5 separate regions of the Homo sapiens genome follow, and all the other regions are reported to be linked to region 4. The links are microRNA targets in miRTarBase. Many come from high-throughput screens and were not tested one by one. Region 4 holds a microRNA gene; each other region holds the end of a gene's coding sequence.

The links. Region 4 holds the annotated microRNA hsa-miR-1306-5p (CCACCUCCCCUGCAAACGUCCA, at 1,145-1,166, shown strand). A microRNA usually pairs through its seed, bases 2 to 8, with sites in the 3' UTR of a target mRNA and lowers its output. Matches are read on the target gene's strand: a 7mer-m8 pairs with bases 2 to 8, a 7mer-A1 pairs with bases 2 to 7 and ends in A, and an 8mer does both.
Region 1: the mRNA of SPATA21 is a reported target of hsa-miR-1306-5p. The part of its 3' UTR that is shown has no 7-base or 8-base seed match.
Region 2: miRTarBase lists HLCS as a target of hsa-miR-1306-5p. Seed matches in the 3' UTR shown: 7mer-m8 at 2,698-2,704 and 8mer at 5,227-5,234.
Region 3: miRTarBase lists NKX6-3 as a target of hsa-miR-1306-5p. The part of its 3' UTR that is shown has no 7-base or 8-base seed match.
Region 5: miRTarBase lists QRSL1 as a target of hsa-miR-1306-5p. Seed matches in the 3' UTR shown: 7mer-m8 at 4,361-4,367.

The regions. Positions count from the first base shown.
Region 1 is chr1:16,394,682-16,400,971 of GRCh38, reverse strand. It overlaps SPATA21 (spermatogenesis associated 21), which reads left to right. Exons shown (of 13, transcript NM_198546.1): 11 at 80-252; 12 at 1,451-1,628; 13 at 2,150-2,329. The coding sequence ends at 2,207. It overlaps SZRD1 (SUZ RNA binding domain containing 1), which reads right to left. Exons shown (of 4, transcript NM_001114600.3): 4 at 2,827-5,934. The coding sequence ends at 5,832. Among named protein-coding and RNA genes, the nearest start is that of SZRD1, 31 kb to the right of the region's middle.
Region 2 is chr21:36,749,855-36,756,144 of GRCh38, reverse strand. It overlaps HLCS (holocarboxylase synthetase), which reads left to right. Exons shown (of 11, transcript NM_001352514.2): 11 at 1,728-6,290. The coding sequence ends at 1,899. It overlaps SIM2 (SIM bHLH transcription factor 2), which reads right to left. Exons shown (of 11, transcript NM_005069.6): 11 at 6,228-6,290. Among named protein-coding and RNA genes, the nearest start is that of SIM2, 54 kb to the right of the region's middle. RefSeq lists enhancers at 5,410-5,934, 5,935-6,290.
Region 3 is chr8:41,642,338-41,648,627 of GRCh38, forward strand. It overlaps NKX6-3 (NK6 homeobox 3), which reads right to left. Exons shown (of 3, transcript NM_001364841.2): 2 at 5,729-5,898; 3 at 2,840-4,357. The coding sequence ends at 4,112. Among named protein-coding and RNA genes, the nearest start is that of NKX6-3, 5.3 kb to the right of the region's middle. RefSeq lists an enhancer at 2,849-2,908 and a silencer at 4,223-4,452.
Region 4 is chr22:20,084,928-20,087,927 of GRCh38, forward strand. It overlaps MIR1306 (microRNA 1306), which reads left to right and starts at 1,131; the gene lies at 1,131-1,215. DGCR8 (DGCR8 microprocessor complex subunit) reads left to right here. Exons shown (of 14, transcript NM_022720.7): 2 at 760-1,756; 3 at 2,235-2,394. The coding sequence starts at 1,037. MIR3618 (microRNA 3618) reads left to right here and starts at 819; the gene lies at 819-906.
Region 5 is chr6:106,664,315-106,670,604 of GRCh38, reverse strand. QRSL1 (glutaminyl-tRNA amidotransferase subunit QRSL1) reads right to left here. Exons shown (of 11, transcript NM_018292.5): 11 at 2,188-4,823. The coding sequence ends at 4,603. Among named protein-coding and RNA genes, the nearest start is that of LINC02526, 28 kb to the left of the region's middle.

The DNA of each region.
Region 1 (6,290 bases), not on the chromosome of region 4:
GCCAGAGAGATAGGGGCTGAGGAGGAGAAGGGTGAATTAAACACAGCCAGGCTGAGATGGGTGGGCACTGCCTCCCCAGCTACTACCAGAAAAAGCTGAAGGAAGGCACCTGCAAGGCCCAGGAGATGGAAGCGGCCGTAGGCCGGCTGCGGTTGCAGAAGCTTCCCTACAACCCCCAGCAAGAAGAGAGCTCAGAAGTTCCAGAACGAAAGGTCCTCAGTATCCTGAGCCGGCTGAAGCAGCAGAACTATGGTGAGGGCCCTGGGCAGGGTGGGATGGGCTAGGGTTGGGGCTTTGCTCTCTTGCCCATCTGGTCTCCTTTCCTTGGACCCTCAGGCAGCCAGGCCAAGGGAGCTGAGAGGCCAGTTTCCCACTTCGGGCTTAACTGTGTACATCAGAAAACAGGCTGATAATCACTATTTTCCATCCAGGCCTATGACAATGGCCTCCTGCGTTGGACTCCTCCCCTCCTGCCTTAGCCTGAGCACAGGTTGGTCCCATGAGCCAGGACTGAGAAAGAACAGCTGTAGAGATTAGCAATCCCAGCTCACTGTTTATTGAGTGCCCACTGTGCTAGGCCCTTTGCAGATGCTCTAGAATTTAATACTCATAATCATGTATTTACCCCATTTTACAGATTAGAAAAATGAAACTGACCCAGGCACAGTGGCTCACATCTGTAATCCCAGCACTTTGGGAGGCCGAGGTGGGCGGATCACCTGAGGTCAGAAGTTCGAGACCATCCTGGCCAACATGGTGAAACCCCATCTCTAAAAAATTAGCCAGGTGTGGTGGCGAGCACCGGTAATCCCAGCTACTCTGGAGGCTGAGGCTGGAGAATCGCTTGAACCCGGGAGATGGAGGTTGCAGTGAGCCGAGATCACGCCATTGCACTCCAGCCTGGGGGACAAGAGCAAAACTCTGTCTCAAAAAAAAAAACAAAAATGAAACTGATAAAGTTCAGCAATTTGCCCAATGCCCCTAACTAGTGTTTTGGAAAGGGGAGTTTATATCCAGGTCTGACCCCAAAATCTATGCTCTTTCCACTGGGCAAGCCTGCCTCCCTTCCCCCAGGTACCATTTATTAGACTCCTACTATGTGCCAAGTAACAGGATAGGAGCTTTGCAGTCTTTCTAGAGCATGCCTACTAGACTTTGCCAACACCCATCACAAAGTCCTCTGCTCCTTGTTAAGCTGTTACCAGCTCTTATTCTGTGTGCAGCACTGAGCTGAGTGCTTTGCATATATTTCTCCTTTAATCCTCATCATCAACTTTTGTGAGGTGGGTACCACTATCACCTCCAGCTCAGAAGCTTAGAGAGGTTAAGTGACTTGCCCCAAACCACTCAGGTCATTATGTAGCAACGCCAGGATTTCACTTGAATCTGCCTGCTTCCCAAGGCTGGGCATGCTGTGAAGCATTCCTCCTTCTGCCTCCTTCTTCACCAGCTCCCAACCTGCAGAGCCCCTATGCCCAGGTGCCCTGCATCCTGCTCTGCCCACAGCTGGACAAGAAGATGGTCCGTAGGCAGCCGAGCAACCACTATGCACTAGACCAGTGCACACCCCCTGGCCTGGATCCTGACATCCGCAGCCCCTTCTTCCAGTCAGGATCTCAAGGAAACAGGTGGGTGCCCAGAGAAAGGGTCCCAGCCCAGGCCCTTCCAGATTCTTCCTTAAGAGGCCCCTGGCCTAATGCCTGGGAATCCATCTTTCTAAGAGATCATACCTGAGAGGCTGCTTGCTCCAGGGAGGAGAAAGGGTAAAAGGCGAAGAAGACAAACCTTTGTTGAGGGCCTGTGTACCCAGCAGATTGTTCCACTGAAGCCAGAGTGCTTCTGCTTTCCTGTGTCCAGGACTCAGTGGCACCTAACTGAGTACTCTGAGTTCCCTATGGTTCCATATTAGGACTAGCAGACTGTGCACCTGGGCAGAGGGGAACGTCTCCTGCAGCAGTCCCCCTCCAGGCCGCTGGGGAAGGGAGCTCTGGACTTGGAATCAGGCCCCTAAGCACAACTGCTGGTTCCACCATTTCTGAGGGGAGGCCTCCTCTCTCTCCTCACTTGGGCACGCACAGATGGCTCATATACTGGCAGATAGGGAAAGGGCCACATGTCTCCCACCCTTCTGCCCTACTCCTCTCCCCAGGGAACACAACTCTGACAGCAGAAAGTGGCTCAGCTCTGTGCCAGCTCGAACCCACTGACCCTCTGGAGGCCTGACTCTAGGCAGCTGCTCAAGGCCTGTAGACAGATGGGCCACCAGGCAGGAGCTGCTGCTGGGATTTGCTTTTGTGGCCTGGTGAGCTAATAAACACCAATAACTTCAGCCTCTGTGCCTCTTGCCAAGAAAGGCCCTCAAGTTGTCACCCAGCCACCACTGGGCTCTCAGAGTGCAGGGTTCCACCTCAAAGCCCTGCGCGGGGTTGGGATTTCTGCTACAGGTGCCCCTGCGTGCAGTCTTGACCTTCTGTGCCTTCTCAAAGCACAGGGCTAGGCCTCTCCTCAGGTGAGCACATCCCCCTCTGGACTGGGAGCCCCACAAAAGCAGCCATTCTCTCTCTCCACTGGCTCTAAGACAGGCCCTGTGGAAGAGCAGGAGGTGGCCTCTGCATGCTCCCCCGACAGAGCCCCAGGACCCAGGGCTCTCATTCTCTGGGAGCCCCAAGAGGGGTGGGTCCTTTCCCCTCAACCCACATACCACCCGGCCTCGTGTTTTACCAAAGACAGTCTTTCCCTGGGACTGGGCAGAGGGAAATCCCCCAGGGTTAAATAAGCGGCCACAGCAAGAGGTAGAGGGCAGGGACTGAAATGAGGACAAAGATCTGACAAGTTTAAAACATGTATTTAAAATACAATTTATAAAATGCTTAATCTGCCGACTCAGGAGCCCGCGGTGCAGGGTGGGGTGGGAGTGGGCAGCTGCCCGCTACACCAGCAGAGTAAGACTGCAGGGGTGCAGCCCTCCCTCCCATGCCCTTCTGTTCAGACACCCAAGGGGCCCATGTGCACCCCTGGGATCACACGACCAGAAAACAGGACCCCAGAGGTTTCTTGAGTCTCTGCTTACCAGGGAGGCTGGGTACAGCCCTGCCAGCCCATCCCTGAGCAGGGCACCCCCAGATGGGGCAGAGCAGGGTATGGCTGGGCAGGGCAGGGCTGGGCGGGGCAGATGGGCTCTGGAAGGGGCTGATGGTAGCAGATAGGGTGTTGCCTCCTGCCTGCAGGTGGGGAGCACCCTGATTGAGTGGGCTGAGAAAGGTTGGTCACCAGGCCTGGACCCCCCAGCTCCTTTGGTTATAGGCTGACATCAGAGTAGTGGCTCATGGGAAGCGGTTAGCTGGAAGGTCTGAGGCCTGGCCCATGGGGTCAGGGAGGAGCTGGGGGAAGGGGACAGTACCGTGAAGGCAGATAAAGGGGCAGCAGCCTCAGGTTTCTGCCCCCCATCCCCCTGGGGTTTTCCAAGCCAAAGCCTGCAACTTACTTTAAAAAAGAAAAGGAAAAAAAGCACTTAGGAAAGTTACAGACAACTACCCCCAAAAAATACCCTCCCACACACAAAATCCAAACCGTTTCCTCATCTCCCTCCCGCCTCCCCCGACACAATACAGTTTCCTGTTTTCTTTCTTTTTAAAAACGTTGCCTGCTACCTCTCCATTTGGGAAGCCCAGGGCATGACTGCTGGTGGGTGGTGACAGGCACACAGCGGGCAAAGCCCATCTTTGGCCAGAGGGAGGTGGGAGGACCAGTCCCTGCCACATCCTCAATCCACAGACACCCACCAGCCAGCCTTTACTTTGGCCTCCCACTAGAGGGTAGTGGGGCAAGAACAGGTGGTCCCAATGGCTGGGCAATCAGCACTTCTGGCGTTCCCACCTGGACTACCTCTATACCCTTCTCCAATTAAAAGGAAAGTCTCACTTTGGGCGGGAAACCACTATTACATAAGGGATGGACACTACACATTTAGAATGTGGACACTTGGTTAGGGCAGTGGAACTATAAAGATAGCAGCCAGTTTTCTTCCTTGCCTTCTCCTGAAGGTAATCCTCCCTCTTACTGACTGAAGCTCTGGTTCCAGCTCTGCTCATGGGCAATGCCTGGCTTTACAGTTATAAGGCTGTGCTATGGACTAGCTGCTGACTCAGCTGGCAGCTGGCCCTTCCTCCGGAGGAGAGGACGTGTTGGGGCATGGCTTACTGGGCCTGGCCTACCATTCCCACAGGGAACCAACGAGGGAGTGAGCCTGTGAGACTCAGCTTGCCACCTTGGCCACCACGTGCTGCCCTCATCACAAAAACCACACCAACCACTCCGAAACGTATCTGCTGGTCAGGAGCAGGGAGGCTGTCTGGCTGGCTGAGGGATAAGGCGCAGTGCAACGGAAGGGATCAGGAAGCCTGAGAGGAGCCAGGTACACACAGCTGCTCTGGGCAGCTGCCCTCTTAGTCTCTTCCACCTCAAGGAGCCAAAGCAAACCCCAGGCTCCAGGGACAGAGGATAAACTGCCTTCATTCCAGGCCCTCGCTCTGGAAAAAGGGGTGACGGGTAGCCTAGGCCTCTGAGGAACCAGTCTGTCATCAATCTTTGCAAAGCAAAGCTGTTCTTTTTCCAACTTTATTCAGAATGTTCTGCCTTCAAGGTACTGATTGCACACAGGAAATGTACCAGGTATAGTTACTGAGCTGGGGCCACCAATGGAGATGGAGCACTGCAGACCCCTAAGAGTTCAAGCCATGCTGGAGTGGGAAGACCTATCCACCTTCTGAACATACGAGGCAGAAGGCTCAGAGTCCTGGAGGCAGACTCTCTCCTGGTTTTCCTTGTGCTGATGGCAAAATACTAAACAAGTCTTCTCTCCGTCACTTCTAAGCCCAGGGATGCAATCTCACTCCCTGGCACTCTGCTTTCTTCTAGAAGTAGTAAGCCTGGCTGGTAGGGAACCACCCTGAGGGGTATGGGAAGGGGAAGTCGGTTCACTTTCCCTATCTCCCAAAATACTAGAGGTGGGGTTGGCACCCTCCCCAGGCTCTCCGAGCCTACAGAGCTAGCCCAGTCTCCAGGCAAGGCCCAGATGCCCTGGGACTTAGCTCGGGGAGGGAGGTATAGGCATGGGGTGCTCGTCTGTCCTGGCGGCTGCAGAGCCCTGCCCCTTTTCTGGGCGGCAGTAGGAATACAGAAGCTAAGCTCACCAAAATCCTATTGGTTAATGTTTCTAGTGAATTTCCCAGAAACATTTTTAAGTAGACTACCAAACTACCCTTTCTTAATTAAAAATTCATTAAACCACTAAAACCCCTCCCATGCACTTTTTCTTGCAAATCAGATATTTGTATAAACAAACAAAAATAGGAAGAAAAAAAAAAGAAAGGATATTTTCAAATGGAACTTACTTTTTAAGTGATGGAGACATGCACTTGGGGGTGGGTGGGTGTGAGTTTTCATTTGTGTTTTGAAATCCCAAATTAATGAGCATGATAAACTGTTATTGCTGGCACTGGCTTTACCCCAAGTGGCCAAGTGGCACTGTCTGACTCTCTGAGTCCTTGCTGGGTCCCCCCAACCTTCCCCTAACCCCCACCCTTTCCCTTTCCATTGACTTGGGACAGCCCTTGTCGATGTGCCAATCACAGTGGGAAGGGGGAGAAGGGGGGAGGTCACAGTGCATGGGGTTCAAGGTCACAGTGGGCGGAGCAAGGGGGATCACAGTGCAAGTAAGTCAGGTCGTTCCCTCTGCTCAAGTCCAGCTGTCTGCCACGGCAGTGCAACCCGTGGCGGACGACCCAGGAGGCGGTGACGGCAGCAACGGCGGCATCTTTTCTTGCCTGCATTTATCTGCGCTGTTTGAAGCCTTGAGACCCATCAGGACCCAAAGGCTGTCTGATCACATTATTGGGCTGCCTGCTGTCTTCGGGTTGGGAGATCCTGGTTGGCCTGAAAGGAAGAAAAGCAGAGGAAGGCCTGAAGAAGGATATAATAGATGTCCCCCATCATTTCTTTATTTTTTATTTATTTTTGAGACGGAGTCTCATTCTGTCACCTAGATTGGAGTGCAGTGGCACGATCTCCGCTCACTGCAACCCCCACCTCCTGAGTTCAAGTGATCCTCCTACCTCAGCCTACCGAGTAGCTGGGACTACAGGCATATGCTACCACACCCAGCTAATTTTTGTAATTTTAGTAGAGATGGGGTTTCACCATGTCGGCCAGGCTGGTCTTGAACTCCTGACCTCAAGTGATCCGTCCACCTCGGCCTCTCAAAGTACTGGGATTACTGCACCTGGCCTAGA
Region 2 (6,290 bases), not on the chromosome of region 4:
CTTAAAATGAGGGACCGAGCACTGGTCTGAATGATTATTTTCTGTGTCTCTGTTAGAGAAACTGCAGGGACACCACCTTGACCAAGTTAGCATCACAAGTAATGGAGCAAACGGGCATCTTATGCCTCCTGGTGGGATGCGATGGGAAGAACCGAAATAGTGAGAGAGTTTAACATTGGTTTAATCTGATTCTAATTGTGAGGAAACAATAGACGCATCTAAATTGTCAAACCTTCCAGGTAACAGTGGTTCTCAAAGTGAGATCCCAGGAAGCAGCCTCAGCCTCAACCAGGGGCTACTGCATCAGAAACCCCTGGGCTGGGCCCAGCACCCTGTGTCATAACAGATACTCCAGGGATTCTCATGCAGCTGAAGTCCGAGGACCGCTCACTGATTCCACAACAACAGGCCTGTGCCCTGCAAAAATGTCAGGTCTGCGCACAAACAATTAGACCAAAAGAAGGTGGCAGAATTGTTTGGGATTAGAGAAGACGAAAGAGGCATGACATCTAAATGTAATGTGTGTGATCCTGGATGGAGGGAAATAGCCACAAAGGATATTAAAAGGACAGTGGGAATGACGTGAACATGGACCGTTTGTATCCAGACTTTCTTGAGTGGTCATAGTTAATGCTATTATAATTTTATGGGAGGTTCTTGTTCTCAGGAGATAAAGTATTTAAGCAGAAAGTGTCACAATGCCTGCAGCTTTTAAAAAACTTTTTTTATTTTCACTTTTTTTTTTTTTAGAGAGGGTCTTGCTCTGTCACTGGAGTGCAGTGGTGCCATCATAGCTCACTACTGAAACCTTGAACTCCCGGGCTCAAATGATCCTCCTGCCTCAGCCTCCCAAGTAGCTGAGACAATAGGAGTGTGCCACACGGCCCGCTAATTTAAAAAAAAATTTTTTTGTAGAGGCAGGGTCTCACTATATTGCCCAGGCTGGTCTTGAACTCCTGGCCTCAAGCAATCCTCCCACCTTGGCCTCCCAAAGTGCTAAGGTTACAAACATGAGCTACCACACCCAGCTGCAACTTATCTTTATATGTTGCAGGAAAAAAAAATGTGTGCTTGTGTGTGTTTATGTGTGAAGAAAGAAAGCAAATACAGAAAATATTTTCATTTGGTGTGAGAATGGAAGAGAATATGAGGTTTGTTGCACTATTCTTTCAGCTTTTCTTTAGATTTAAAATTCTTCAAAATAAAAACTTGAGAAAATTCTATACTTCGAAAGCTGTTAAGAAGGACGTGACTTGAGTACATTTGGAAAATATTCAAAAGAAGTAGGATCAGGATGAGTTTCACTTGTGGCTGATATGAGCCAACTTTGTTTTATAAGATAAAACATTGTTTGCCAACTCGGCCTATTTTCCTCCAATCTCAGCCAAAAAACCTAGAGTTGCACAGTGTTTCTTAAAAGCGCTGGGAGGTGAGGAAGTGGTTCCAGCCATCACCGCAGATGACCAGAATTAGGAGGAGTGACGTTGTGTGAAGAAATTTCGACTCCTTGTTGAACTTGCATCCTGCTGGTTATTTGAGCAGTTCTTAAAACCATTCACCAGGGTGGAAGAAAGTCAGAGCTCAGCCCAGGCTGCCTTTTCCCTGCAGCGAGCCTCAGCCCTCTCCCCAGCACGCCCAGCTCTCTCATCATGGATTATTCTTCAGCTCATTGTCTTAAGTCGTCCTGTGACACCTCCCAGTGACCGCACGCTGTTCTTCCTTTTCAGTGGTCAGCAAGTCCATCTGGGCAGCGCAGAGGGACCAAAGGTGTCCATCGTTGGCCTGGACGATTCTGGCTTCCTCCAGGTTCACCAGGAGGGCGGCGAGGTTGTGACTGTGCACCCGGACGGCAACTCCTTCGACATGCTGAGAAACCTCATCCTCCCCAAACGGCGGTAATGCCGGGCGTCCCCGAGACGCGGCTGCCTGTCCGTGCCCATGCATCTGGAAATCTAATTTAGAGTTGTAGGTGAATTTTCTTTTCCTCCAATTCATTTGTTAAGTCTTTGTTCTTTTTCTGTGTTTCTGTTTGTTTTTAGGTTTGTTTTGTTGTCGTTTTCTTTGGTGTTTGAAGAGGCTCTGGGATAGATGGTTAAGAAGTAGAAAATTTAGTTTAGGGAAAGCCCTCCCACAGGTGGGAAATTGCTCTCCCCTCTGTGGCTTGGACTTACGTTTATTGTCAAGGGGAGTTTTTACATGGAAATGACAATGGGAAAATTCAGATATTTTCTTAGTAGTGCAGACCTTTACCCCTAGTCTATGAAAAAACAAACCAAAATATGCTCTTGCGCCCAGGCCAGTGGTGAGTTAGAGGTATGCTATCACTGTTTGTAAGCATCTGGGGAGGTACTGAACTGTAAGAACATGCTTGGACACTTAGTCATTGTTCTGTGTTTTTATTAATGAAGAAAAGGGAAGACAGACTTCCAAGAGTTACTGTCCACCCGGTGGTGTGGCCCCATAGCGAAGTCTAAATGCCTGTAGAGATAGAGCTAGCTGGTGTGGTTGCAGTGACCTTGTAGAGGAAATCAGTTCATTACTTTGACATCATTCAGTGAGCTCTCCTTTCCTAAGGAAGTTTAAATGTCCTTAGTTAGGGACTGACTTTCTTAAGTAAGTTTAAATTTACTACATATTGTGAAGAGACAGGATCAAGTTCAGAATCCTTAAATGTCTGATTAGGCATCACTTGGATGAGGAGGTGGGCGATTTGGCTCTGACAGCTGGAGATGAAGGCACACTCATACCACATACAAGGGAGGATTTGGAGCTTTTAAGCCAGTTTCAGATTTACTCTGAAATGTGGAGCATTCCTGCAAGACTGTGCAGCTCACGGAATATAGAAGACATGGCATTTTACTCAGAAGTCATAAGTTTTTGCCCCCCTCATTTACCTCGTATTACCAAGAAAGAAAATGTTATCGATACTAAACACCATCAGTTCAGAGGGAGGATGTGTGTGTGTGCCCGCATATGTGTGTGCGTGCGTGTGTGCGCACATAGCTTTAAAAGAAGACATTCAAAATTTGATGTGCTACAAGCCTCATGAAAGAACAAAAGAAATGAAGCCTTTTGATATGCATTCGCTATTCCCAGATGTACGCCATGCCTTTTCCATGTCCCTCCTATCTCTGTTGAACTTATGAATCATACTCATTACTTTTCAGCTTTTTAAAAGGCCAATTTTTGTCCAGTTTTCTCTCTTCCAGTCCCAGCTGAAATTAGTGGAAAGAAAGTTTGATGGAGCTTTCAGCTTTGAACAAAATCCCTTCATTGTAAACTAGCACCATCTTTATCCAGGTCTTACCCAGTCAGGCTAATTCCAGAAACTTGTGGTTTTTAGTATAGTCTGTCTACCTTTAGCCAGGCACAGGACAGCCCTATGAAAAAATACCCAATATATATTTTTTGGAAATGAAACATTAAAAGAACTTAAAAAGTAATTTTTGGAAATGAGGCTTCAATTAGAATTATTTTTCTCAAAAAACAAACAAACAAAAAACACAAAAAAAACCACTCTTCTCCAAATGCCCAAGCCTTCTTTCAAAATTAGTTAGAAACTTAAGTAAAATACAAGTCCACACCATCCCCAAATTACAAAATGGACTTACCCTTGAGAGGGCATCTGCAGAATATCATCAGGGACAAAGATCTCGAGGCTAACGATGTAGGTTTCATTTCTCAGACTTTGTAATATAAGGCAAGCCCTCTCTCAGAGCTGCCATCATCACTTTTTGAATTTCTTTGGGGGTTATTTAATGAAAAACATGCTATGTTTTGTTTTAAGCTGAAGTCCTATTCTGGACACTCTGCTTTGGGAAAAAATGTTATCATTTAATTTCCTTTCTGCAAATTAAAACTAATGAAGTGTGGCCTTGTCAAAGGCTATGGAGATGTTCCGGGCATACTGCTGTGCTCTGTGCTTTCCAGCAGGCGCTCCTCCCTCACGCAGGAGACTCAGTTGTCCTGAGAGAGATGAAGCAGCCTTGAAGCAGATGCTGCGTTTTCCATAAACCTGATTTTGCCTCACATGAACCAAAGACTCTCAAAACTCCGCTTCTATAGAATTAGCTGAATAAAGGCATTTTACTGATAGCTGTTCGTGTTAGCGAAACCTGTCTACCTGCTATAGCACACTCTCCGATTTGGGCCATTTATGCACCCCGCAACCTGGGATCTCAAGGAGCTTTAAAGTCTTAATGGGAACTTGGCATTTTCCTGATGATCTTTAAAATGTGGTCACTAAACTCAGGATTGGCGTGTGCTTTTAGAACACTGGAGTAGCCCTTGTTTTAGAGGCTGTGCATTGAGTATCGACCGTATTTTGTAAAAGGCAAGATATCCTCCCTTCCAGGCTGGTAACGGGTTTCAAGGGGACTCTTGAGGAAGTGCCCCCTAAAATAGAACACAGCAATAACTGGGCTTCCTGTCCCCACCCCCACCCCAGCAGTGCTCTCTGGCACTGGGAACTCTGCTAGGGAGTGGTGGAAGTAGGAAGGATTTGTGTGCAAAGGAAAATCGTGGTTGAGTTTCACTGCAGCAGGCTGACGTTGCCTGATGTGAGAGCAAGTGGCCGACTGGGGTGCGGGTGCACAGGTCGGGGGAGCACAGGCCACAGAGCGCAGCCTCTGGGGGTCCCCCAAGGCACAGCATATACAGCATGGTCGCCCCTTGCCCTGGAGTCTGGGAACAAAGAGAGGAGCCAGCCTCCCCGCACTGCTTCAGATGGAAAAGGGAGGCAGGGTGGGCTTCCGTTCTCCAGATCTGTTTGCTCTTAACAGGCAGAACATGGGAGAATCCTTATTCCTGGTTAATCACTATGCATATTTGAAATAAAAGAAAGCGTAAGCCTCTGCAATTTTAACTTCTCAAAGGATGTCTCTGAAAAGAATCACTTTAAACCAATGCCTATAAAAAGCAAGTCTACCAAAATAAACTAAGACTTTCTATGTGGTTTGGGCTCCCTCTTATTTTTACAAGTTTCATTTTTAAAAGTAGGCAACTACTTTGGGTTACAGTATTTTTATTCATATTTAAACATTTTTACAAAATAAATAAAGTGTTTTACATAGTAAGGAATATGTACGTATTTCCAAGTATTAAGAAGCCAAGTGTTTTTTTTTTTGACGTATTATTGACAAATGTATTCAGCGCCATACACAAGAGAAATATTATTACTCCAAAGAACGAAAGTTAACAAAACTCCAAAGCAAAAACCCTTTTAATGGAGGTGAGAAATAAATTTAATGTAACAACAGCTAGATTGTTTTTAGGATTTTTCTTTTCTTTTGTGGAAACTTCTTGACTTGACTTTTCATCTGAACAGTTTTTCCCCCCAAGATTTTAATCTTATATGTCATACTTAAGTTTAGGAACAGCTTGAATAATTAGCATTCTAGATAACACAAGGGCCATGATTCACTAAAATTCCAAGCTACTGTAATTTTATGGCATTTATTTGCAAATGTTCTTTGTATCTCATTTTATCTGTAGCAGTCCCCACTAGTCTACCTTAACCATCTTATAGCTCTGGTAAATTAAAACTTACGTAGACTTTATACAAGATCCATTGGCCGTATTAAACCTCCCCCACTCTTAGGGCTTAGGGCGGAAGGGACGAAGGCAGGGCTGATAGGACTTTTAAAAGGATAAAAGGAGTGGGGGCAAGGGAGGCGGAAAATACAGGCTCTTGCAGATACCCTCCGCGCTGCCCTCCACACCCAGCCCACTGCTCTACAAAGGTATGAATGGAATGGCTTTTCTAGAAAAGGGCTTCCAAGAACATAAAGGAATTCCTTTCCCTGGGAGGCCCCGTGGAGGGCTGAGCCAGCCTTGAATTGGGCTTATTTCTCAAATCCATTTGATCTGGCATTTTTGTCAACATGGTACATGTTAGGGCCTACGATGATTTTTTTTTCTTTTTTGTAAAAGAGAGGCATATGTATTAAAATGCTTCCTCTTCCCCTGCCGGAGCCTCACAGAAGTCAAGAAACGCTATCCCCAGCTTAAATGTGCAGACTCTTCAAGATGGAGGTCACAATATTAGGTTGCCACAGTAACAGCTCTGCTGACTTCACACTCAGCCCTGGCCGTCCTGAAGCCAGCTCGTGTAAGAATCTTCCTTCATGTTCTAGGTTATGAAAACGAAGTTTGTTTAGACAAGGACGTTTTCACTAGTACACATTTTCAAGTACATACACACTCTGTTACGCCTGTCCACGTTGTCACTTGTAAATCTATGATAGGGTCTTTTTTCTCAACAGTAACCTTTGTTATTGAACTGCTCCGAT
Region 3 (6,290 bases), not on the chromosome of region 4:
AACTGACTCCTTTCCCCTAACCCATGCTGCGGGGACAGCTGGTTTCTGGGGTCAAAACCTAGGGGTGGCCCGAGGATGAGGAGGGGTTACCAGAAGTGGGACTTCAGCCCTTTGTCACCTTTCTTTTGCCCAGGCTGGAGTGCAGTGGAGTCATCTCGGCTCACTGCAACCTCCGCCTCCTGGGTTCAAGTGATTCTTCTACCTCAGCCTCCCCAGTAGCTGGGATTACAGGCACCTGCCATCACGCCCAGCTAATTTTTGTATTTTTAGTAGAGACGAGGTTTCACCATGTTGCCCAGGCTAGGCTCCAACTCCTGATCTCAGCTGATCCGCCCACTTTGGCCCCCCAAAGTGCTGGGATTATAGGCATGAGCCACTACACCCGGCCTCTTTGTCTACTTTCTGATTGTTACCATCAGGATATGGCCACTGTGAGCCTGGTAAGGCATGGACATCCACCCACCCTCGCCCCGACCTGCTGAAGACATATCCCAGGTCCTGCTAATAGCAGAAGCCACAAAGGTGACAGCTATGGCAGAATCCGTCCCTACTTGGTGGAGCCCATGGAGCCACCTGTCAGAGCAGACACCACAGCTGTCATGGACGTGGGACTTAATTTCTTTCCTTTTGTCTCTGAAAAGTTTGTGATGTGGTAAGAGAGGAGCTGCAGGGAGCATGCATTTCCAAAGTTCTTTTGCTTTTTGTATGTTTGTTCATTTAACCCAGAATATACAATAAGTTCTATTTATGAGCAGGGATAAAAGTGGGGCCTATAGTTTATGATTTTTTTTTCTTTTTCTTTCTTTCTTTCTTTCTTTCTTTCTTTCTTTTTTTTTTTTTTTTTTTTTTGAGACAGTCTCACTCTGTCACCCAGGCTGGAGTGCAGTGGCATGATCTCAGCTCACTGCAACCTCCACCTCCCGGGTTCAAGCAATTCTCCCACCTCAACCTCCTGAGTATCTGGGACTACAAGCCCTCACCACCACGCCCAGCTAATTTTTGTACTTTTAGTAGAGACAGGGTTTCACCATTTCTCACCATGTTGGCCAGGCTGGTCTCGAACTCCTGGCCTCAAGTGATCCACCCACTTCGGCCTCCCAAAGTGCTGGGATTACAGGTGTGAGCCACCACGCCTGGCTGGCTTATGATTTCTTTATGATGGATGAAGTGAGATAGCCTTGTGTTCTCCCAAGTAACACACACATGTATGCACACACAGGCATGCACATGCATTCACATGTGTGTGCATCTGCAGAGGGCCAGACTTATCTTGAATGACCCTTGGGAATCTGGGTCTTCCACATATGAGTTTTCTCCTCCTTTGAACTCCAAATCTAGTCTTTTGAATATGCTTCAGCATGATTGTTAGGGAAATGGGGGGCAGTGCCTCTCCTGTGCTTGGCCCTATGTTCAGTCTGCACATGGAAGGTGGTGTGGGATTAGAGGAAATGGCCCAGAAGGCTGTAGTCTTTTAGCTAAAGGTTCCAGTGGCAGGTATCCCAGAACTTTGAGGTCAAAGGAGGTTTTGTTTAGCTCAGCAAATATCTCCTGGGAAAAACTTTCCCCAGGCTTGATTTCATACTGACCTCAAATGACTTGAATCAGACATGCAGGAATTATAGCTACAACAGAGCAGTTAAGATTACAGCATGCTTCAGAAAAAGATAAGTAAACACAGTTTTTATGTCACTTGCATCTTCCTCCATACCTGCTTGGTGACTTTGCACCTGGGCTATGTGATAGCCTTTTCCTGCCTGCAGCACTCAGGAATCACAAGCCTCCCAGAACCACAGAAACTTTTTATCTTTGAAGTCTGTGCTGAATTCTAGGGTCCTCTCCTGCTGCAGCCACTGTAGGACCCATTCAGGACACTTGTGACAGAGCACGGCTTCTCAGTGTGCACACAGAGATTGTGCTCCATTCCCTTCTTTTCTCCTTTCTGCTTTTCAAGGGAAAAGACTGACACCTGAGCATAGGCATCTTCACAGATGGAGGGTGGAAATTTATACACATTCTGCATTTTCTGGTCATGTTCCTCTCTGTCCTCTGGGTCCTCTAAGGGTCTTAGGAAAGGTGGGTGCCCTACTTTCTGAGATGCTCCTAGCTAGGGTCTTCCTCCACCCTCATCCCCTCTCGGGCTGGTTCCAGGGCCAGGTTCACCCATCCTGGGGGTCTGGGGGTCCAAGGATGGACTTCTTGGGAGAGCAAAGGGGTCAAGCCTAGTTGCTAGTTGCACAGATTGTTGAAGTTGGAAGGGCCTTAAACTACTTTTGGTTCTAGCCTCTCATTTGACAGAAAAGGCTTCGAAGGGTGCCCTTCACAACCCAAGGAAGTGGCTGAAAGGGCCTTGGGATCTACTCTGAGGTTGCCTCGTCCCACTTCTGTGACTTGGTTTAGGAACTTTCTGAGCTTTGGTTTTCTCCTCCATGCATTGAAGATGATACCTACTGCCTAGTTTTCTTGTGGGGTCAGTGATAATCCAGACATTCTACAGGGGAGAAATTAGCAGGTGTTCTGTTAAACTTAGCTCTTCTAGTCTCTCCCTTCTTATTTTTCTTATGATACCCAATTCTCCACATAGATCATCTTCCCCACTAGGCTATAAATTCCTGGAGATCAGGGACCCCATAAAATTCACCTTGGGTTTCTCAGCACCTGGGGACAGTGTCTGGCATCTACCAGTGAGGTTTCAAATAACTTGTATTGTGCAACCTGTCAGAGCACGAATGTCCCCAGGAGACTAGACAACGGCCCTCGGGGAAGGCCCCACAGCTGGCAAGTCTGGGACCTCACAGCCAGTTTCCTGCCGTTGGTCCCTTTCACAGAAGCACAGGAGCCGTAAGGTTCATGGGACTTTTATTTTTACTGTTTATTTTTTGAAAGCCAGTGAGGATGGGCAAGTGCTTGGTCCCTTCTGGGCTGCATTCCTATCTAAGACCAGCCCTCACCCGCCTCCCCCAGCCCACCCCCTACCTGCCAGCAGCTCAGATCACCCGGGTGAAAAATACCACCCTGTTGGCCAGCGTCCCTGTCAGCACCAGCTCCAGTGCCAGGCCGCAAGGCGATCTGAGGAAAGGAAGGGCCGTGATTCCCAGCAGGCCGTGGTTCAGCCCCTTCCTGGCATCCTCCACCCAGCCGGAGGGGCTGTCCTTCTCCCTTCCTGCCTTGTTGGAGGGGTGCCGTTCTGGGGTCTTTCCCAGCCCTTCCTTTCCTCCCCAGGTGGGATGCTTTTTCTCTCTGGGTGGGCCTGTCCTTATATCAGCACCAAATGATGCCCAGGTGGGTGGCCCTTGGGCACACCGTCCCCGCCTCCCCTCTCCCTGCACCCTCCCCTTTTCCCCGGCTGTCAGGATGAGGAGGGCACAGCGGTCTCAGAGGTATTGACCCTGAGGGTAAATCGGAGAAAGGAGGCCAGGGGGATTTCCGCAGCTCAGGGGCCGTCATCCTGCAGTGTCAGGGGCATTTTTTCTCCACTGGGATGTCCCACTTCCCCTCCTGGAGGCAGATTTCCTGCAGCCTGGGTTAGGTGCTCAGCTCTGGCCCCTCCAGTGGGACCCTTCCTGTGCACAGGTCTGAGGAGTGCACCTGGCCACTCACCTGTCTTTTCTTCTGCAGCCAGCAGCTGGCTTGGGGCCCAAGACTCTGGACTTCTGACTCCCCAGCCAGCTGCCTCCCTCCCTGGGAAGTCCTGCCCACTCCCCCCGCCCCAACAGCTGGATCACAGTGGCATGTCTGGGACCCCACAGCCAGTTTCTTGGCTGCAGAGCCTGGTCATTTTAGTCCTCTGTCCACTTGTGAATCTGCAGAACTGGCAGGCGAGGCCCGAGGAGGTGCAAGGGGCAGCGGCTTCCAGGTCTCAGGAGTGCTGTGCCTCCCTCCTGGCCTCCTCCTCCCTTAGCTAGGATGCCTGTCCCCTTTCCCTCCTTTTCCTCCTCCTCCCCCGCCTCCCCTCCTCCTCCCCTGCACCTGCTGCTCCTCCTCCACGCGCCCCTCATCCAAAGAAAGACTCAGTCCCTGCGCCCCCAGGAGCGTGGGGAAGGGGAGGGGAAGGTAGGCTCCTCGGCGTCCCCCCGCAGGCTGCAGCCAGGATCCCGGGCCTGGACGGCGGGCGTCAGACGCTGTGCGCTCCCAGGCTGAGCACCGAGAAGGCGGCGCGGTGCTTGCGCAGCAGCAGGCGGATCTTCTCGTCGTCCGAGTCGGGGTCCAGCGGCTTGTTGTACTCGTCGTCCTCGTTCTCCGAGGGTGCGCGGTCCCCGCCTGCGCCTGCACCCGCGCCGCCCGGGGCCCGGGGCGTGGAGGACGAGGGCTCCAGGGCGCTCTTCTTCCGCCACTTGGTCCTGCGGTTCTGGAACCACACCTGCGATGAGAAAGAATGTGAAGGGCACAGGGGCACAGCGCGCACGGGACGCGAGAACAGCCATCCTGCTTTTACAGCTAAACAAATGGCTCAACAACGGAGTGACTGTCACATTCACGTTTCTGTTGGGGAAGGACAATAAAATTTAAAAACGTGAGCGCGGCAGCCCTCCCCTCCGCCCCCCGCCCCCACCATTTGCTTCCTCTTCCACCGCCGCCTCCTCCCCCTCTCCCTCCCCCTCCCCCTCCCCTCCCCCTCCCCCTCCCCCTCCTCCTCCTTCTCCTCCTCCTCCTCCTCCTCCACCTGGGAACTCGGTGGAAGATGCGGAGTGCGCGGGTGGAAGGCTTAGCCCCGGTGCTCATTGGAAGGTGCTTATGAGCAGTCCCTACTCTGGGCTTCATAGACCCTCACCCTACTTCATAAATAATTGTTCCCCTAGTTAGTTAGAAAAGTAACGTAGGTCCATTGCTTGGGATAGTTGAAGAGGGCAGGAACGCACCCCAGAAGCAGAAAGACATGCAGGAGTGTCTGCTTCTTCCCCCCAGCTCTCGCCCCAGGGCAGCTGAGCGGCTGATGAGGAGGGCGCAGCGGGTTGGAGCTCGGGGAGGCCCCAGGGCCCTGAGCAAAGCCTAGACCCAGGTGCCAGCTGCCCCTGCTGCATCCTTAGGCCCGTCGCCGAGTCACTGAGCCAGCATCAAAGTGGGGAAAGTTGCCCCCAGACTCTAAGGCGGTAGAAACCGGTTTCCCCGGGTCTATTTAGGGGGCATTTGGGGCCCCTGCGTGTGGAGTGGGAGAGCCTGGGCTCACCCTCCCTAGCCCTGGCGTGGGCGACAAGGCTCCAGGCCCCTGAAGCCCATCTGATCCTGCTTAGTAGAAGGAGACGTTGTCTTCATCTTAAGGATTGGTAAACTGAGGTCAGCTCCTTTTGCTGACTGGAGCATCAAGCATGAATCTGGGCCAGAGACTGCCGACCGTGCTTGGAATTTTTGGCCAAATACGGGGGGAGAGGGAAAGCCTCAGGTTGGAGTCCCCCACATCTGGGGTTGAACCCCAGCTCTGCCAGCTCTCCCAGCTCTCCCAGCCGGGAGACACTGATCTTCATCTGCGAAATGGGTGATGATACCGACCCCCCGGGTTGCTGAGAGGATGAAATGAGGTGCCGCACATAAGGCTCTGAGAATGGGGCTCAGCCTTTCCCGGCTATGGTTAATTACCACAGGCTCCAGGGTTAGGCAGGCAGGCAGTGCCCAGACACCAGGACAGCTGCCCTCTGGGGGGCTGCGTTGTGTGGCCACCTCTCTCCAACGCAGTGGCCTCCTGTCCGGCAGGCTCCTCCCTGCAGGGCAGGTGCCATCTCCCGCACAGACTTACCTTGACCTGCGACTCGGTCATGCCCAGTGAGTATGCCAGCCGTGCCCTCTCGGGGCCAGCCAAGTACTTGGTCTGCTCAAAGGTTTTCTCCAGGGCAAAGATCTGGTGCCCCGTGAAGGTGGGCCGGGTGTGCTTCTTCTTGTGTATGCTGTCACTCAGGGGGTCTGGGGCTGGCAGGAGGAAGGAAGTGTGGGGTTAGTAGAATAAGTGGGGACCCTGCGGCTAGGCACGTCTGGCAGGGCAACCACCATGCCTGCCCCTCTCCCTCCTGCAGAGGTTTCCAGGACACCAAGATTCCTTTCCCCTGAGCAGCATTCTTGATATTGGGGAACAGTGACTGTGACCTCTGCCCCGCCTGGATGGGCAGGGCTCCGAGAGGGCAGCTGCCCTAGTGTAATGGGACTTAGGGGCAGCAGAGCCTCATGCCTCTCTGTCTAAAGTTCTCAATACTCGCTGATGTTGCCTTCCCCTGAGGGGCAACAGGAGTTCCCTCTCTGTCCCAGGGATGTCCCTTCAGGTCACCCTCCTCCTATAATTAGGGACCAGGGCCTGTGAATTCCCT
Region 4 (3,000 bases):
AGTGGCTCCTTATTGTCCCCAGGGCGGAACGGGCTGCAGGTGGCACCCAGGCCTCTCTGTGCCTCGGCTCCAGCTGTCTCTTGTGGCTCCCCACCCCAAATCCTGGCAGGTCCCTTCCCCACAGCCACCCACCCCTCTCCTCCATCGGGAACAGAACTATGCTGCCACCTCTGGTGACCTCAGCACGCTGCATCACTGTCCCCGTCCACGTGCTACCCTGTGGGCCCAGGAGAGCCCTGGGGTCCCTGGGTAGCAGAGCGCCTGGCCATGCCTCTGAGGCCCCTAGTGCCGCAGAGTTGAGCTGAGGGTCTCGCGCTCGCCCTCTGACTGACCCAGCCCTTGCAGGTGAGTGGATTGCTGTGCTCTGGTGGCCTGAGGGAGGCCACGCGCCTTCTGTGTGTTCCAGAAAGGGTGCCTCCCACTGCATGCTTGCTTATCTGAGTTAGAAGAATGCTGTGGTGGAGTTTAGTGTAAATTTTTAAAATATTTTTTGAGCCTTATGATTATATAGTTTTTGTGTTTCTGAAGTAGGAATTAAAGTGGGCATTAACAAAATATTTAACTTTGGACTTAAGTTATAATTCAGGTTCTGAAGAATAAAAGTAAGGTTAGTTTGTTTTGATGCCTAAAAAGTCCTCTTAGGGAATATTATTTTGAAGCCCTTTACTATGCTGTTAATAGTGCTTGGCTTTTAACTTGGTACCAGGGAATTGGAAGGTTTCTGTCATTTTGTGACGATATTTTTAAATTTCTTTGCAGGTAGAAGAAGAAAGGTGCCACTCCGGCATGAAGACAGACTCGCTTAGTCGCCAGTCACTTAAGCTGAGTGCATTGTGATTTCCAATAATTGAGGCAGTGGTTCTAAAAGCTGTCTACATTAATGAAAAGAGCAATGTGGCCAGCTTGACTAAGCCGCCAGCGCACAGCGCGGCAGGACGCGCCCGGGTCTCAGCGGACTTGTGCATGTTAGCTGTGTAGATTTATGTGAGGGCTTGTAAAACTCTGGTCTTGTAAACTAGTCTTAAGCGCTTTTAATATGGAGACAGATGAGAGCCCCTCTCCGCTCCCGTGTGGGCCCGCAGGAGAAGCGGTGATGGAGAGCCGAGCTCGCCCCTTCCAAGCGCTGCCCCGTGAGCAGTCTCCACCACCTCCCCTGCAAACGTCCAGTGGTGCAGAGGTAATGGACGTTGGCTCTGGTGGTGATGGACAGTCCGAACTCCCTGCTGAGGACCCCTTCAACTTCTACGGAGCTTCTCTTCTCTCCAAAGGATCCTTCTCTAAGGGCCGCCTCCTCATAGACCCGAACTGTAGTGGCCACAGCCCGCGCACCGCCCGGCACGCACCTGCGGTCCGGAAGTTCTCCCCTGACCTTAAGTTGCTTAAGGATGTAAAGATTAGCGTGAGCTTTACCGAGAGCTGCAGGAGTAAGGACAGGAAGGTGCTGTACACAGGAGCAGAGCGCGACGTGCGGGCGGAGTGCGGTCTGCTCCTTAGCCCTGTCAGTGGGGACGTGCATGCTTGTCCCTTTGGCGGGAGTGTTGGTGACGGGGTAGGCATAGGGGGTGAGAGTGCTGATAAGAAGGATGAGGAGAATGAGCTGGATCAGGAAAAGAGAGTGGAGTATGCAGTGCTCGATGAGTTAGAAGATTTTACTGACAATTTGGAGCTAGATGAAGAAGGAGCAGGCGGGTTCACGGCTAAAGCAATCGTTCAGAGAGACAGAGTGGATGAAGAGGCCTTGAATTTCCCCTACGAGGTATGTTGGCAGCCCCTCCTCTAGAGGGCTCTTAGCAAAACCCAAAGAGAGATTTGGGAATTGCAGCATCTTTTGAAAGCAGGGAAATTAAAAAAAAAAAAAACAAAAACCAAAATCCCCTCTGAGGTGGAATAATGTTAATGTGGAGAAGAGAAAGATGTAAGGAGTCCAGATTTTTAAAGTTTCCTAATGAAAAGTTTGGCCCATGGGTAGGCCCTGCATCCCTGATCTAGCGCGTGGGGCAGCAGGTGCTGCTGAGTTACGCTCCTTGGCAGTGTGTGCCCCTGGACCAGGTGTGTTGGTGTCAGCTGGTAGCTTCATCCTGTTTGTTTTTCAGATGATCATGCACCCTAAGGGCACATCTAGGCCCCCTGAGAGCACCTCCTTTCTGTGTCTGTTCTCAGGAATGCTGTTGAGCTCTCCTGTTGCAGGAGCATGAGCGCCAGGGGCTCTGGTGTCTGAACAGCGTGTTTTGCAGGATGACTTTGACAACGATGTGGATGCTCTGCTGGAAGAAGGCCTTTGTGCCCCCAAAAAGAGGCGAACAGAGGAAAAATATGGCGGAGACAGCGACCATCCGTCCGATGGAGAGACAAGTGTGCAGCCGATGATGACCAAGATTAAAACAGTGCTCAAAAGTACGTGTGTGGGTCAGAAGCAGTGGGTGTTCCAGGGCAGTGGAGGGGTGGTTGCTTCCTTAGCAGAAATGCTTTGAGAGAGCTCTGGTGCCAGGTAGTGGGCTGGGTGGAGGCATGTTTGAGGACAGGACAGAAATATCTGAGGAGGGAAACACAGGATGGGAGGACGTCCTGATGCATGACCCAGATGCGGATCCTGGTGTGTGCTATGGAAACCACAGAGCAGCAGGCACTGTGCAGAGGAATGGGAGGGGACTTCTGAGGGGGTCAGGAGGGGATGTTGGTATATGCCAGGAGCCAGCATGACCATCAGCTGGAGGGTGTGGAGACCAAGGGCAAGGTGGGTACACAGTGAGATGGCAGGTGATAGTTGTGATCCAGGTTCTAGTCCTGGACCAAGTGTCACAGGAAGCCACCAGAAGCAAGTGGTGTTACCTGATTTTTGTTTAACAACATGGCTTCTGGGCCACAGCATGGTGTGTGCACTTCAGCTGGGCAGGGTGGAAGTGCCCTGGTCGACGTGGCACTTCCTCAACTTTGAGTTGAGGGTAGTGGGGAGAGCACTTGAGAGGCGCCCAGAGTTGCACTGTGAGGCTCTGTCATCGA
Region 5 (6,290 bases), not on the chromosome of region 4:
CACTGCACTCCAGCCTGGCAACAGAGTAAGACTCCATAAAAAAAAAAAAAATGTAGTCTATCAGTTCTTCCAGATATTTTAAACTTCATTCTCAGGGGAGGCCAGATCATCAGGGAAATATATAGCTGGTCTCTGGTATAAGCTTTCAGTAAATTATAATTTGGCCACATGCCAAATTGTGGCGTCTGTAAGAGTTTACTGTGAGGCCTCTATAAGAAAATGACTGAAATTCATGATTGCATGCATTTATTTATAGCTACAAAATATTGCGTGCTTATTCTGTCAGGTATCATGCTATGTGCTTTCAGTGTGTCACTTAAATTTAATCCCTCCGACTACCCCAAGGAGTGGATATTATCCCTATTTTACAGGTCAGGATACTGAAACTCAAGACAAGTTACGCGGCTCGGAAATGGCAGCAACAAGATTCAATTCAGGGTTGTCTGATTTTTAAATCTGGTGGCCTTACCCCACTAGGAAAGCTAATTTCCCACCATATCATATACTACCCAATATTAAGCATCTATATAGATACCCTGACAAGCATTTTTTGTTTTTAATCTATTTCTGGTTTTATTCTTCTTCCTCACTTTTATTATCACTTCATGGATTTCCTCAACTATTTACTTTTATACAATTGTAATAATATATTTTTAATAAACTGCCTAAAATATTTTTGGGTTTATATTCTATTGAGGTACAAAGAAAAATAAATAAAAAAGCTCCTCCGAAATCCTGTAGTAATTACTTTTACTTAATGTTGCCTTTGGTTTTTTTTTCGTGTTATTTGCCTTTATTAAATTTTCAGGTTTATGTTCTAGTGTACACATTGCTTAAGTTATTAAATAACTGAGGAAAGCCTTCTATTTTAAACTTCCTCTGGGTCCTTCTAAACACAACGGATATGTCTTTTCCTAGGCTTGTGCCTTGGTACAGATAACCAGATGTTTGAAGAAAGGGAGGGGGACTGGGCACGGTGGCTCACTCCTGTCATCCCAGCACTTCGAGAGGCCAAGGTGGGCAGATGGCTTGCGCCCAGGAGTTCAGGACCAGCCTGGGCAACATGGCAGGACCCTGACTCTACAAAAAATTAAAAAAATTAGCTGGGCCTGGTGGTGCCACACTTGGGAGACTGAGGTGGGAGGATTGCCTGGACCCAGGAGGTCAAGGCTGCAGTGAGCAGGACTGTGCCACTGTACTCCAGCCAGGGTGAGGGCAAGACCCTGTCTCAAAAAAAAAAAAAAAAAAAAATAATAATAATAAAAGGGAGGGGGATTAAAAGTAGTTAATGAATGAAAATTTATAATAAGAGATATTTTTAAAGTTCCATTATTTTACTCCCCTGCTTTTTATTTATTATTTATTTTTTAATTTTTTGAGATGGAGTCTCACTCTGTCGCCCAGGCTGGAGTGCAGTGGTGCACTCTCGGCTCACTGCAAGCTCTGCCTCCCAGGTTCATGCCATTATCCTGCCTCAACCTCCTGAGTAGCTGAGACTACAGGCGCCTGCCACCGCGCCTGGCTAATTTTTTGTATTTTTAGTAGAGATGGGGTTTCACCATGTTAGCCAGGATGGTCTCGATTTCCTGACCTCGTGATCCGCCCGCCTCGGCCTCCGTAAGTGCTGGGATTACAGGCGTGAGCCACCGCGCCTGGCCTACTCCCCTGCTTTGAATCAAATAAGGTATGGCACACGGCTTGCTGAATCCCGAGGTCTACTTATTAGTACCTGCTTATTTCTTTTCACTATCCTTCAGATTCTGTTTAAAATCCTAAAGTTACTTATTTACATTAGGAGGTGCAGCTATTTCCTAATAGGAATAAGCACTTTTTTTTGTCATTTTGCAAGCTCCTCTTCTATACCATGCCATCTTTAATTTTAAACAGCCCAGTCTGATGTCATCACAGAGGACCCGGTGTCAGCCACTCAAAGGGAACATTCTGCCTCCTGGGTTTCAGGTGCTTTTTTTGGTAACGCTAAGTGTGGGCCAGCGTGGAACAGTGGTTTTCCCGCTTGCTCCTTTGGCTCTCTGTGGTGGCAGAGCACCATGTTTTATGATCACATCATTTTTTCACTCTGACACGTGTTCAAACTTTTGCTTTGGTTTGGGTCTTTCAGGTGTTATCAAGGAACTCATCTTACACGTGTAGACATCTTCACCTTTCAAAAACACTCTGTTCTGGAAGTTCTGTTGCTAATAATTTTAGAGTTTAATTAGCTGAGACAAAGAAAGTATTTGCCACTTAAATTCCCAGACAGTGACTTGGCAAAATGAGACCTACTAGATTAAGAGTAAAAATGAAGAGAAAAGAAAAACAAATTAGGTATCATTTCATGGTAGTTGGGTATCAGTATATGAGAACGGTAAATGTTTCACTTTTTAATTTCCAGATTCAAATTATTAGTGCAGCTCATGTAGAGATACAGGAACAAGAGATTTAATATTATTTGAAATAATATTGAATACTGAATAATATCATTGAATATATAATATTGAATATTATTATTTCGGCCAGGTGTGGTGGCTCACGTCTTTAATCTCAGCACTTTGGGAGGCTGAGGGAGGCAGATCACTTGAGCCCAGGAGTTTGAGACTAGCCTGGGCAACACAGGGAGAGCCCATCTCTCTCTCTCTCTCTTTTTTTTTAAATTCATTACATAAAAACAGATTGGGGCAACGGTTTGTTTATTTACTTGCTTTTGACATCATATTTGCTCCTTCAACTAAAATGGTTTCCTCCATCTAGGATGTTGTGGTGTCTGAGCAATTAAAAAACTTAAAACGGTTTCCTCTTGCTATAAAGTAATGCAATTTTCTCTCATGGATTTCTTCCTCTTTCAGGGATTCAGAGTCAAAATCTATAGGAATATTACTAAGCCTGGCACATAAGACTTTTATGTGAAGTTAATCAGGTTGAGTATTTGGGAGCGGGAGGATCTCAGAGAGGACAGAAAACTGTTTATGAAAACTAACAGGTGACGATGAAACATTCCAGTGGTTCTGCAGATGATTCTGACTCATTATTTTCTCTTCATGAACGTCATATTTAGAAAACAATTTTTTTTTACTAAACAAAGTGAATTTATTAAGTAACAATTCAGCTTTCATTTATCAACAATATGTAAGTGCTAGATTAAAATACCTGATCAATATGAGATGACAATGGTGTTCTAGTGAAGACACAGAAATCCAGTGATGAAGCCTTATCATGAGTAAATGGATGGTTTCCATTAGATTTTGTCAAATATTGAATACAGATATCCATTAATATCTCTGGGCTCGAGGGTCCCAAATAAAAAACACTCGTAAAGACAGTCAAGAGGAAAAGGAAACCATGAGATATAGAGAATCTGGGGTAAGGCAAGTTCTTGCCATGCGCATCCCCTCTTCTGCTTCATCAGCAAATTATCTGCATGTTTTTCAGAGTGTATGTTACTTGTGTATTTTGAACCTTTTTCACTAATACCATGCTCTGCTATCTACCAAGTTTCCAATCTGTGATGGTCTGTTAGGTTACAATAAATGTTTCGATGACATTAATGAGCTCATTTGTGATCAGTAAATAGGAGCATGAACTCAGTGTAACATGGAGTTGTTCTGGCTTCTAGGCATGGGCTCCGGAATAGCAGAAGTAAAATTGTAACTCTAAGGAGGAAAGGAAAGTTCTCAGTCATTTCAGCTCTTTCTTAGGGAAATAAAAGGAGTCCCTGCAAGTGGAGCTCCTCCCCAGAGAGGCATACCCCTGAGATTTGCATGATTCTGGGCCCTGACTGGTTGCATTTCCTCCTGTGCTCAAAGTTCCTCTTCCACCTGCTCTGCTCAGCGCTCAGAAGCCAATAATCGCACTCAATTGTTTCTGTGCATTTTTAACAACCCCTGAGGCGGCCTTCACCACATGATAAGTTGCCTGCCTAGGCTATCCAAGTTACCTCTAGAAGGACTATTCATGTTTTTGTTAGTGCTTTAGTTACACAGATGTACAATTTTTGAGAAGTTTATCCCTAATCTTATTTTTACTGTAAACTCTTTAATGAACATTATGGCAGAATGCATTGTCTTTGAGGAACAGGTATCTTGTGTTATTGTAGAAGTATTGTACACTTAGTGGATGCTTACTAAATGCTGACACGTTATTTATTATTAATTGTCACAGGAATTTTAAAAAGTAATTCCATGGAATGACTGTATTAACAAGAACCTAATTACAAGAATTGAGCAAGACCATTTGACTCTCTAGAATATAGAATCTCTGTACGTCATTTTATTTTATTTTATTTATTTATTTTGAGACACAGTCTTGCTTTGTCACCCAGGCTGGAGTGCAGTGCAGTGGCATGATCTCGGCTCACTGCAACCTCCACCTCCAGGGTTCAAGTGATTCTCCTGCCTCAGCCTCCTGAGTAGCTGGGACTACAGATGCCCGCCACTAAGCCTGGCTAATTTTTGTATTTTTAGTAGAGACGGGGTTTCACCATGTTGACCAGGCTGTTCTAGATCTTCTGACCTCATGATCCGCTCGCCTTGGCCTCCCAAAGTGCTGGGATTACAGGTGTGAGCCACTGCACCCAGCCTAAAAGTCATTTTAATTTGTAAGATATGTTTACTGTTTTAGAGAGACAGAGGCTAACTTTTCATTTTCAAGGACTGCTGAACAATCATCCATGAGTTCTTGAAGTTGAATAACAGGAAACTGTACTTGTTTTTCAAACCATTTGGCTACTGTAAGAAGCTGCTGGTCACAAAACGCACGTCCAATAAACTGCAGTCCTATTGGCAACCCTTGGTTTGAGAGTGCAACAGGGATACTCACTGCTGGCAATCCTGGGAAAAGAAGGAAACCCAGTAGGTGATTAATTCTCCACCCTAATTAGCAGAGACCTCTTCCACTTTCCAGTGCTAATAAGTACAATACAGGATAAGGTTTAAAAAACAACCAAAAATATTATGCTATATAATGCTTTTGTACTATGTTTTGTTTACTTAACAATATATCTTGGAAATCATTCTGTATCAGTTCACAGAAACCTTCTTCATTCATTTCTTATTGCTGTATAGTACTCCATTACTTGGTTTTACCATAATTGAGTAAACCAGTCTTCTGTGGTTGGGTATTTAGATTGTTTTCAATATTTAGCTATTTTATACAATGCCCCAGAGAATTACTTTGTGTATGTATTTTTTTGGTATTCTTGAAATCTTCTTAGATGAGGAGGAGATTGCTTCATCAAACGACAAATGCATATGTAATTAGATATTGCAAAATTCCCCTGCAAAGAAGTTGTACCATTTTGAACTTCCACCTATAGCCTTGCAGACAGAGTGTGTTGTTCAGTTTTTGAATTTTTGGCAATCCATTAGATGAGAAATTAGCTCAGGGTAGTTTTAATTCCAGGTTTGGGCAGAGAAAGTACAAAATCCCAGACCATCTTGTTATACAATAAAACAAGTTTTCAAAAATTAAAATGGGGACAGTTTTAAAGGATACATATAACTTGAAGGGGCTCTTATTGGCCAAATTTAAGGCAATTTGACCATCAAAAACAATACTGACAGTAATTGCTTATAATACATTGAATTAAAGAAAAAAAGGAAGGCTCTTCTTTAGAGAATACTGCTAGCTAATAAATGTAGAAGGAATGACAGATTTAGTAAAGCCAGAATTTTGTAATTCTCTAGCTAATATTTCAAGGATGATCAATGAATGCTAAAACTGGGTTCAAGATAATTGGAAAATAGGATATTCACATGGTCTCAAAATATTACTCCAGAAATTGCTTAAAAAAATGATAAAAGGAAAAATGTACCTTTTTATAAGGAAACATCTAGCAGTTACTTCCTTAGCGAAGTGATCAACTTGGTTTCCAAAAGTGAGACAAACTGATATTAACTGTTTCCTGACATGAAGATTATGTAGTACTTCTACCAAAAATGTTTAACTCAACCCAATCATGAGGAAGCAATCTGACAAATCCTGATTATGGATGGGACATCTTACAGCACAAGTGGACTGGGCTCTTAACATTTTTTAAGTGCTAAAGATAAGAACTGTTGAACCAGAGTTCTACATCCAGCAAAAATAACCTTTAAAAATCAAAGGGAAATCAACACATTCTCAAAAGGAAAGCTATGATAATTTTTCATCAGCAGACCTACCCTAAAAGAAAGGCTAAAGAAATTTCTCTAAACAGAAGTGACAAAATAAAGAATCTTGGTACTTCAGGAAGGAAGAATGAACACAGTAAGCAAAAGTATAGGTAAATGTAATAGACTTTCCTTTTCCTCTTAAGT